3 linked regions of the Homo sapiens genome follow. The protein of the gene in region 3 interacts with the protein of the main gene of each other region in a pairwise test. Each region holds a gene or a part of one and is shown on either strand. Other genes may lie near its edges. The genes, in order: TRIM45, LRATD2 and TAX1BP1.

Region 1 (3,751 bases), on a different chromosome or scaffold from region 3:
AACCATGGTAACGTAACTTGTTTGGTATATTTGTTTGTTTATAGGAACCATAGTAACAGAAAAACCTATATGTAAAACAGAGTAGAAAATTACATGAGCAGATGGTTAGGCAGATAGATGACTAGTCAATTGTGAGGAGGGGGCATAACCCTCTCAACTGTGTTCATGTCCAGACACAGTCTGGACAAAACTGGAAAATCCTGAGCTAGATTATATTTTTTGAATATGCATGGTTGTCTGCTGGCAGATCACCCCCTGTGATCAAGACATCTTCTCCATATTAAGAATCCTAAGAAACCAACTGGGAGAATGATAAGCTATAAGCATAACTGCCTGGAGGTGACACAGGGATACAGGGTTCTTATGGTCAACAGCATCCTCCAGGAAGAATAAGAGTAGCAAAATCTGGGCTGTTTCTAAAGTGAAGAAGAAGACATGGGGATTCTATTCAATCTCTCTGTATAGCTGATCCTATGTGAAATGTCTCCAGATCCTAAGACAGTAGAATCCAGGGAGCTCAGGGAAGCACGTGCACCAGTCTTACCTGCACATGCTGTTCTTTGATGCAGACCCACACAGTATAGACGCCAGGTTCCTTGGGGGTGTAGGAAATGTAGTATGTCCCATCCTTGTTATCCTGGACCATTGTTCTGACTGGGCTGAATGGAGATAAGAGTCAAAACACCACTCACTTCCACAAGCTGGCTTCAGTTGCTACTATTTCAGAATGTAAACTCTACACCATCCCATTCAGTATTAATGTTAAATATACCCAAACAGGATGCTTCTTCCATTTGCTTCAGAAGTTAATTTTACAACAGAAGGTAAACAGCATAAATTCCAATTTAGTCTGATATTCAGACAAATTCCTTGAATATATTATTGTGTCCTTTTCAACAGGCTTCTGTTGAACCCTCTTGCTCTGTTGTCCCTCCTCCATTCTACAATTCCAGAGAAATATAAACATGCTCCAGGCATAATTTAGTACCAAAGGGAGACTGAATTTTGAAAAGGGTACCATTCAGTCTAACACAGAATATTTTTCAACTTATTCTAAAGCTTGAGATGAAAACAATCTGAGGGGCAGACCATAGCTTTGAGAGAGAATTGAATACAAAACCCACACAAGAAAACACATTTGGTCACGTAACGTTTCATAGTATTATGGGGAGGTAAGACGTAACTAGTGAGTTACACTCCAATATCTTTTTTTTTTTTTTGGACCTGGGGTCTTGCTCTGTTGCCCAGGCTGGAGTGCACTGGCACAATCACAGCTCACTGCAACCTCGACCTCCTGGGCTCAAGGGATCCTCCCATCTCAGCCTCCTGAATAGCTGGGATTATAGGCATATGCCTCCACTCCCGGCTAATTTTTTTTTTTTTAATTTTGTAGAGACAGGGTGTCCCTATGTTGCCCAGGCTGGTCTTGAACTCTTGGGCTTAAGCGATCCTCCTGCCTCCACTTCCCAAAGTGCTGGGATTACAGGCATGAGCCACTGTGCCCAGCTCCAATATCTTAAAGGACCTCATGTTTCCAGTTTTCTCACTGCCTGTTATCCATGACACCTAATTGTGTCATACAAACCTGTCTTTCTTATCTTTAGGGACAACGGCAACTTGAACGTTGTCTCCTCCCCTGCCCATGATTTCTCCTGCGGCATCCTTACAAAGCAGGGTGAAAGAGGCCGTCTGTTTCTCCCGGGCTCTGTGGAGGTCTGAAAAAGATAAACACTCGGTCCTCACCTCGAATGTAAACTGCAGTGACTACATCTCCATCTTGCTTTTTCTCTTCAGAACAAAGGGTTGTACTTTACTGTAACCACCCTGGGTCCCTTTGTTTTCTCTTCCCCTTCTGCCTCCCAGAGTACGCCTCTTGGGAGTCCTTCCTGGTTGGCCTGGTTCTCTCAGCTAGCAGCTGCTTTGGATCACACAGGATCCTGGACCTTACCTTCAGTCCTAGGACTGAAGGTCCTATGCTTTAAAAATACTCACGACTGACCGAGGTATTTAAAGAAAACCTCTAGACCCTGTGAGAGAGGATAGTAACCCCAAAACCACCCTCCCTAAGCTCCAGATCCTGCTGGGCTAGGCAGGGAGTACAGCTGACCAGCCTCACGACCCTCCATGTTTTGAGATCCTCTGCAACTTGGTAGCTCATGCCAAGGTACTGGGGGGATATCCAGTAGCTACAGCCCCTACTCCAGCATTCAGATGAAACAGGGTTTCTTAACCTGAGGTTCATGAACTACTATGAGGTCTATGGAAAGGCTTATGAAGAGTCTAAAAATCTGGAATTGTATGCACAAGTTACTGGGTGTTTCTGTAGGAGAGAACATTCTCAAAGAGATCTATGGCTTCCAAACAGTTAAGAATGCCTGTGTCATTAAGATGCAATCTTCCTATCAGGACTGACCTACTGACCTGTGAAACATATGTTTTAATAATATGCTTCCATTAGAAAGGGAACACTCGTTAAAAAAAACCATTTTTTCCCCCAATTAAATGAAACACCTACCATATCCTTTTAAATGCCAGTAAAGTTGATGTGAACCAAAAAGGGCCTAAAGGAAAGGAAACCGTAATCTCATCTTCCTCATTCCTCTGAAACTCCCTTCAGAACTTGATCTAGGAATCCAGGGCCTGCCATGCTCCTCTCTGAGCAGGCAGAATTTCACCTGGCCCTAGTCACTGCTGTTACCTCCAACGGGCACTGTCTCTGTTCTGCCATCTGATAGAAACAAAACATGATCTGTGTGTTTCTCAGCCATTATTACTTCTCTGAACTGGAAAAGGGTCAAGCCTCACTCCTGTATTAACTGTACCCTAGCCAGAACAAACCAGAAAGGGCAAAGGTGGGGGTCACTGTCTTTCAGATCAGTTTATCTCCCCACCTTTGGTAACCTGGTCAGTAGGGCATGCTTCCTAGCAGAACAAGCCACCAATCTTCACACACCACCTCCCTGTCCACTGCCCTCTCAATGTCAATGGGAAATGCCTTCCTACCTTCTCCTTGTAGGACACATTTGGCTGGATCAACCTCTTTGGTATTAATCGTACCATAAATTTCATAGCCACGGCACTGGCCTGCTTTCTCCTGAGGACAGAAGCGTATCTTATCATTTACTCCAGGACGGGTGCTATATTGAACTTTGTTCAGCTTCCTGAGCCGTTCTACCACCACCCTCTTGGTGATGAGGATCTCCAAGTCTGAGCCGCTGGTCAGCAAGTGCTCGGTGAACTCCACTCCAGTCCGCATGTCTGCCAGTAACTGTTCCAGCTGGGCCTTCTGCAGCTGCAGGGAATTTTCCTTCTGGGCCCGTATGTCTTCCAGCTGCTTCAGCAGCTTGTCCCGATGCTCCTCAATGGCCTTAATGTAGCCCTCCGAGAATGTCCGGACATCAGCTGCCACTGCCTCCACTCGCTTCTGGAGGGCACTGTTTATTATGTGGATCTGAGCCAGGGCTTCCTCCAGGGCCTCCACGTGGGGCTGAGTACCTTTGAGGAGCTCCCACACAGAGTCCCCATGCTTGTGGATGACATTGCTGGTGAAGTCACAGGGGTGTTCCCGATGCTCCCCCACCACACAATCCTGGCACACGGGCCGGTCACAGAACTCACAGAACAGCCTCAGTTCCTCTGCAGGGTGAACAGGACACAGGATGGGCTTCCCAATCCGGCTGTAGCCTTTCAAGTCTTTTAGGTCCACCATGGTGTGGTAAGTCGTTTTCTTCTGCCGCCTAGGGGCAAACAG
Region 2 (3,751 bases), on a different chromosome or scaffold from region 3:
GGTGCGTGGCGAGCTCCTGCAGCACGGCCGCGCGCCCGATCTGGTCGTTGCGTCGCTTCTCCATGATCAGGTCCTCTAGACTCTGGAACTCGAGCGTGTGGCTGCGCTGCGCCGACAGCTGAATCTGCAGCCGGTAGGGCTGCTTGCCGATGCGCAGCTCGCCGCCGATCTTGAACTCGCGCTTGCCGTAGCGGCACCAGGCGGCGAAACTCTCCGAGTTGCGCCAGCTCAGCTCGCGCTCCTTGGCACCCACGTGCGCCAGCGCGTTGCGCACCACGGCGCTGGAGCTTAGCGGCTTGTAGCGGTACAGATCGTTGACCACGCGGCCGCGACGGCCCTGGCTGGCGTCAGTCAGGAAGCTGTTAATCACCTCCAGCCGGTGCAGGTGCACCACCTGGAAGTTACCCACATATACGGCCCAGTGCGGGTACTGAGCCTGCGACACGAACTCCACCAGATCGCCCGGCTTGCACTTGTTGAGCAGGTTCTCGGGCGTGTAGGTACTCAGCGCCGCCGAGCCCGGCGCGAAGCTCTTCTGGTAGATGCATTCGTCCCGGTAGAACACGGAGCATTCCACCTCGTGCAGCCGCGGATCGTAGGGCTGCGGCTGGGGCGGCGGCGGCCCGTCCCCACCGTCGGGCAAGCCGCCGCCATCTGGCCCCTGAGGCGGCGGCTGCGGCTCCACGTCCTCATCGTCATTGGAGAAAATGTAGGAGACCCCAATGCGGGGCCCGTCGTCCCGGTCCACGCCAGTCGGGTCGGCCGTGGGAACTTCCTTGTAACTTAGGTGGGTCAATTTCTCCACCTGGTTGCCCATCACGCTGCGGACACACGTTCACACCGCCGCAAGGGGAGAAAGCGAAACCAACTCCAGGGTCATTTGCACAGGTCCCCGGACAGGGGCTGAGGCTACCTGTTGGGAGAGGAAGGCAAGAAAGCCATGCAGGAGCCCCTCCGTGAAAAGGGCGTTTTGTTCCGAAAAAGAATCGGTGGGGGCTCAGCACCTGGAGCCATTTTAGGGGGAAGTCTCGGGTGTAGCGAGCTTTCCCTCGTTTCTCCACCTGTAAGGTCACGGTCACAGGAGACTGGGCAACTCCTGTTCTCCCTGTCCCCAGCCCTTCGCCTGGCCCTGGCAAAAGCCCATTGCATCAGCAGCTTCTACTGCTTCCGCCTGCGCCCTACCTGCCAAGCTTGGGCAGGAAGAGGGAAGGAAAGAGAAACTTTACGCCAATCCCCCCCCTCCTCTGCTAACTTCCCCTCCCACCCTCGGGCCCTAACTAGCCCCGGGGACGCCTCCTCCCCACCAACGCATCCATCCCCAGAGGAACAAGCGAGGATCTCAGAGCGCGACCTGGACAGGTGAGTCACCCTACCTGGCTCACCTGCAGCGCTACCTCCTCCCGGCTCGCCCGCCCTTCCCCCGCGCCCGCCCTCAGGCTCGGGTTACCTGCACAAACTCACCCGCGGAGAGGTGAAGGCCGTGGGGCCTGGGGAAGGGCTCCCTGCCGCGCCCCGAGACTTCTAGGGCGAGTTTGAAGGTGTAGGCTCGGCAGTCCCTCCTCTCCCGGCGCGGGCGGCAGCGAGGCTGGGCAGAGGGCAGCGCAGCGGGCAGACTAGGGGCATGTCTTTCCCCCGCGGCTGCGTAGCGCCCCGATACTTGAAGGCGGGGGGCAATCCCTGTTCACACCGCGCTTCCTCCCGCCAGCTGGGGCTGCTGCCCCTCCTCAGCCAGCTCTCGGGGGAGGTGGGGCGCGAGGAGGAGAGGACGGCAGCCTCGCAGCCTGGCGGCAACAGCTCCCGCTTGGGCCGGGCGAGCAACAAGCACCGGAGCTGGAGGGACGGGATTGTAGATCCGGCTCCGGGCTCCCGGGCGGGAGCGCAGCCCGTGGCATTTAAAGAGACAGGCGCTCACTCCCCGAGCTCGGGTCTTTTTCACATTGCGCCGAGCGGCCGGGAGCCCCGCCCCCGCCCCGCCCACTCGGGCCTCGGGACTCCGCCCGGCCACGCCCCCGCGCCGGAGCGGGTTTAAATCCCCCTGTAAATAATCCACCCGCCGCCTGGGGCTGGTGCTGTGAGCTCTGCTTGCCTTCCGAGACAAGTTAGAAGGCAAACACAACTTGCCAGTGTGGAAATGAGAAAGGGAAGGAGAGTTTGGTGTTTGCGCCTTTTCCCTTTGACCTGTTTTTTCCCAGAGTACCTGGAGAAGGAGGAACAGTCGTTTCTTTTCTTTCCTGGAACATATTTCTTGCCCTAAAGGTCACAAGAAAGGATTCTTCACCAGGACAGCTCGAAGAGTGCGTCATCCTAGAGGTGTTTTCAGAGTTAGTAGTGGGAAACTTTGGGGTAGAAAAGAAAATCGCAGAAAAGAAACAGTATAAAACAGAACGAAGACTTATTCACTGACTGGGTCCCAAGACCACCGCTCTGTTTATTAGATACCCCTGGAAGTTAGTACAAAGTTCATAACCTCCGTTATTTCCAGAGAGGTACCAGTTCGTTGGATAGTGAGAGAAGCGTGCAGCTCTGACTGCTTTTTTTTGGGGGGGTGGGGGGTTAGGGGATGTAGGAATTGCCTAATTCCTACATCCTAATTCTAATTGTCCTTAAATTAGAAACAAATTAGCAGAGGCCCTAGTGGATATATTTCCTTCCTGTTGACTTAGGGAAGTGACAGGAGACCAGTAATGCCTACTAACCTCCACCACAAAAGGACACTTCCACCTCTCCACTGGTTTCGTTTCTTTTACCTAAATGTAGGCTACCAAAGTGTTTTTTTTGTTGTTGTTGTTGTTTATTTTTTTAAAATAATGGGTCCGGTGAGGGTGGAGGATTAACAGCTCTGTTTACAATAAACAAGTTTAGGCACTACTGCAAGCACCCAGACTTATTCGTAGGGGACTTAAGAATGCGATTCAAGACCTATATTCTGTCTTCAGTTGCTTTCTTTTGACTAATTTTTTCCAGCATGTATAACCAGCCAGTGGAAACAGGAATATACTAGCACTACTGTGATCCTTTCTAGTTTAGGAGAAAAAAATAAAAATCATTCTACTTATGTAATTTTGAGTCCAAACAATCAATATTGGCAGGGCTGTGATAGAAATTAGTCCTTCAGCAAGTCTGAAGTATAAGTTAGATCAACATGAGACTACTGTGTGCTGTGCGATTCTGTTTCAATAATTTCAGACTGGCTGGCCTCAGGCGCATGTGACTGAATGAATCCAACACACCCCAGTCCTTTTGATAGCAAATGGTGTGGGGGGCTGCTGTTACCTGAGTGATATTTGTTGCCATCATATGATCACCATATTATAGACAAGAGTTAGGCTTATAGAGATTATGGCTGGTCATCCTATGTTCATCAGATTGGGAGACCTCTGCTACTGCCTGATTTGGGAGGCCACTTTGCTCCTAGGTGCTACTGGGATGGCTGGGAATGGGAGAATTGAACTGAGAGGACACAGTTGTAGGACAATTTGCTACCAGCACTCTAGGTCAGAGATCTGGTGGGTGAGGAAGCAATGCCTAGCTGACTAGGTGTGTCTCCTTTTGTCTTGATGAGCTGTTCTCAGGTGCACAATAGTGGCTCAACAACATATCTTGAACTGACCAACTATAAAGCCTCAGAGGGAACAAGCCCTGATCCATTTTATATCTGAATGCCTGGCACTGAGTGGGTACTCAATAAATGCTTGATGGATGCCTTAGGGGAAAATTTGGCCACAGGTCAAGAATTGCTTCCTGGTTTTAT
Region 3 (3,751 bases):
TAAGCACTTTAAAAAATATCAACTTTCTTCTTGTGTCCCCTCTGCTTCTGTTATGGCCAAAGTCCTGCTTTACTGAATATAATGGATATCCCAAAAAGAGACTGTCAATCATGAACCTGGAAACCACTGTAGAGTATCAGGCTAGTTGTCAGCCTCTCCCTACCTGAGGTTTGCAAGCATTCCAAGATAAAGAGTATATTCAGTAGCAATCCCCCTTTACCTCTGCACTAATAAAGGGACTTTGCTACCAGCAACCATATTTCATGGAAAGACTTAACTATGAATACTCTCTACCTGGTAACCTAAAGCCATCAGAAAAATGAACAGGTAGCATTTACAAACACTGGAGAACTCTGCCTAAAATAACTGAAGAGTTTTATTATTTTGTTTCTTTGAGTTGTCTGAGCTAATTTGGGCTCCCAGGGAGGTCATGATACTAATGAAGTCATTAATGATTATCTCAAGTCACTGGCTTCACAAAGGAAAAAAAAAAAAACACCAATTCCAGTTCTTTAAAAAAAAAAGAAAAAAAAAAAACTCACTACTGGTTACAAGACACCAACAAAAGAAACTATAGCTAAATCAACAGAACCAACATCTATTAGATACAACTACCAAAACTGAATTAAGAGAATAATATTTTTCTATGAAGTGAGTGAATAGTCACGCTTCCTTTAAGAAAGATATTCAGTAAGAAGGAAATAAACTAGCTTAGAATAAACGTCCCATGTTTTTAATCAAAAGCTGATTAAGGATAATACTTTTTTCTTAAAATTTAACATATCATTTCCTAAAATAAATTAAACCAACAAAGCTGTAACTATTTTTTTTATAAAACAAGGCAAAAGTGTTTCAACTTCTGTTAACCTCAATTATAACAGTTTTTTAAAAACCCACAATCCAACCTTATACTTTTAGTTCACTGAAGTTTTTGAGGTACAAAATAGCACATAGGTATACATATATGTATTTGTATATGTTTACAAATGCATCAAAAGGAACTCAAGAAGTATACACTATAGAGTTAATAGTCTTATAAGGGATGTGTGTAAAAAGAAGACTTAAGGACCTTAAATTTTACATCAATTTATTGTTTGAATTTTTACAAGTATATATAAATGTATTATTTCTATTGTTTTAAATAGCCCTATTAACAAGAAATTCCATTTTTAAACCCTCCCCTGAATTTCACATTTTCTAATAGAAAACACTAGTATTTCACTTTAAAATATAGTATTCACAATGGTTACAAGTCTGAAAAGTAAAATAATTTGTGATTATCCTATTAATGGCCTTCATTAATCTCTCTCCAACACTCCAATCTTTTTAAAATTTCATTGCTATAATTATAGAAATATTTTACAAAAGTCATTCCAGTACCTTGTCATTTTTTACTCTTATTAAATTACAATATAGCTACTAATCATTTAAAAAGTTTACATGGATGAATGCAATCAAATATAATTATGTCATTATCAACCCATTTTAAATAATAAAATTTCTAATTCCCACATAGTTCCTCTGGTTCACTCCTCCTACAGATAACAGACTTAGGCAAGCTTACAAAAATGTTGGAATTCACTGAGAATGTCAAGGTCGCACGGGAGTGGAGAAATAATATGCAAAGTCACTGCATCACCTTGTGGTAATGCCTGGGAAGTGTAGCTTCACTAACATCCTGAGAAAAAGTACAAACCTCCTCTCAGTTGGAGAGAAGTACACTCCCTACACAAAAAGGAAAGTAGAAGCAAGCAGCTTTACCATGTCAAATTCTGATTCCCCTTCTCTAAAGTGCACCTCTACAAACAGGAGTATAGTAAGTAGGCAAGCCAAGGATAAGTATGAAACGTCCAGTCAACAATTAAGGGGCCAGACACATTTGGCTGGGAAACAAAATCAGAAATGCTTATACATGCTGGCTACAGTGCCCTCTTCCAGGTTTCCTACTACACTTCCCCAAGTTCCAATGCCTCTAGAATTTCTTTATGTGTGTTATGCTGTAAACTGTATATTATAAAGTCTTTGGTCTAAATTCCAATTTTATTATTTTGCGAATGCATTAATGTCTATAAAAAAGATAAATAATATATAGTGGGCACTCAGTTATGTATACAGCTAAAATAAACATGGGGTGGGGGCAGGGAAGCATTTCAATGTTATCTTTACTTACTCCTCTTGTAACTTTTTCAAGCCCAAAGCAGATTTGACTTTTGTGGTAGTATTTTTCCAGTGGTTCCCAATACTTGTTTTACTTTAGCCCAAAAATGTAAGCCTTAGTGAACTTACTGAAAAATAGACCATAGTAAGAACTTCTGTACATTAAACATATGAAGCCAAATTAAGCTTTTTAATTTAGATAAATACTAAATATAATTTGCCAGTCCTAACAATTAGAATTCAAAAATAAGGTAATTTTGTTATGTGTGATAATATAATTATGGTGATTCTGTGTTTTTCTAGTCTTTATCATTTAAAGATACTAAACTAGGCCGGGTGCGGTGGCTCACGCCTGTAATCCCAGCACTTTGGGAGGCCGAGGCGGGCGGATCACGAGTTCAGGAGATCGAGACCATCCTGGCTAACACGGTGAAAACCCATCTCTACTAAAAATACAAAAAATTAGCCGGGCGAGGTGGCAGGCGCCTGTAGTCCCAGCTACTCGGGAGGCTGAGGCAGGAGAATGGCGTGAACCCTGGGGGGCGGAGCCTGCAGTGAGCTGAGATCACGCCATTGCACTCCAGCCTGGGTGACAGCGAGACTCCGTCTCAAAAATAAAAAATAAATAAAAATAAAAAATAAAGATACTAGGCCGGGCGCGGTGGCTCACGCCTGTAATCCCAGCACTTTGGGAGGCCGAGGCGGGTGGATCATGAGGTCAGGAGATCGAGACCATCCTGGCTAACAAGGTGAAACCCCGTCTCTACTAAAAATACAAAAAATTAGCCGGGCGCGGTGGCGGGCGCCTGTAGTCCCAGCTACTCGGGAGGCTGAGGCAGGAGAATGGCGTGAACCCGGGAAGCGGAGCTTGCAGTGAGCCGAGATTGCGCCACTGCAGTCCGCAGTCCGACCTGGGCGACAGAGCGAGACTCCGTCTCAAAAAAAAAAAAAAAAAAAAAAAAAAAAAAAAAAAAAAAAAAAAAAAAATAAAGATACTAAACTAACTGTAAGTGAAATGTCTTGATGTCTAAGATTTGCTTTAAAAACTCCAGGGGAAAAAATTAATGTTAGAGGGGGTAATAAAACAAGATTAGTAAAGTGTCGGTTCATTTTACTGTTCATTCTCCTTTGTGTATGTTTGAAAATTTCTGTAATAGTAAAACCAAAGCAAATAAAGAAATGAAACAGATTAGTAACACTCCACATATGACCCACTGTAGCAGAAACACTGCATTTTAGAATATGAACGCTTTGTACCCTTAGAAGTGTTGTAATTCAGGTAATGGTTGATAGAGTTACTGAAAGTTTTTCACATCTTCAGCTAAAAAACCTTTAGAATTATCTCCAAACTTTAATCCGATAGGACACACAAACATATGAAAGGAAAAAATGTCCAGCATTCAAATAGTTTCCAATTATTCACACTGTGGCTCAAAAAAAGAAAGACTAACAACTCTCAACAGACCTCTGCTCCCAAAAAATGTAATCAGCAATTTTTCTAGGAGGCAACAGCAAAAGCCCCAGTCTATTAATTTGCACCCTTGCAGACATCCCTATTTCCAGAATCCTTTACACCTGAGTGCCAAGACATTCC

The links.
Region 1: the proteins of TAX1BP1 (region 3) and TRIM45 interact in binary tests that used the Homo sapiens proteins (3 or more experiments, as listed by UniProt).
Region 2: the proteins of TAX1BP1 (region 3) and LRATD2 interact in binary tests that used the Homo sapiens proteins (3 or more experiments, as listed by UniProt).

What each region holds. Positions count from the first base shown.
Region 1 is NC_000001.11:117,115,031-117,118,781, forward strand, and holds part of TRIM45 (E3 ubiquitin-protein ligase TRIM45), read right to left. Parts: intron 3,738-3,751; coding exon 3,004-3,737; intron 1,716-3,003; coding exon 1,586-1,715; intron 660-1,585; coding exon 545-659; intron 1-544. UniProt on the Homo sapiens protein: E3 ubiquitin-protein ligase that plays a role in the regulation of inflammatory response.
Region 2 is NC_000008.11:126,556,573-126,560,323, forward strand, and holds the start of LRATD2 (protein LRATD2), read right to left. Parts: upstream 1,907-3,751; 5' UTR 1,462-1,906; exon of another isoform or gene 914-1,461; 5' UTR 818-913; coding exon 1-817.
Region 3 is NC_000007.14:27,743,161-27,746,911, reverse strand, and holds part of TAX1BP1 (tax1-binding protein 1), read right to left. Parts: intron 1-3,751.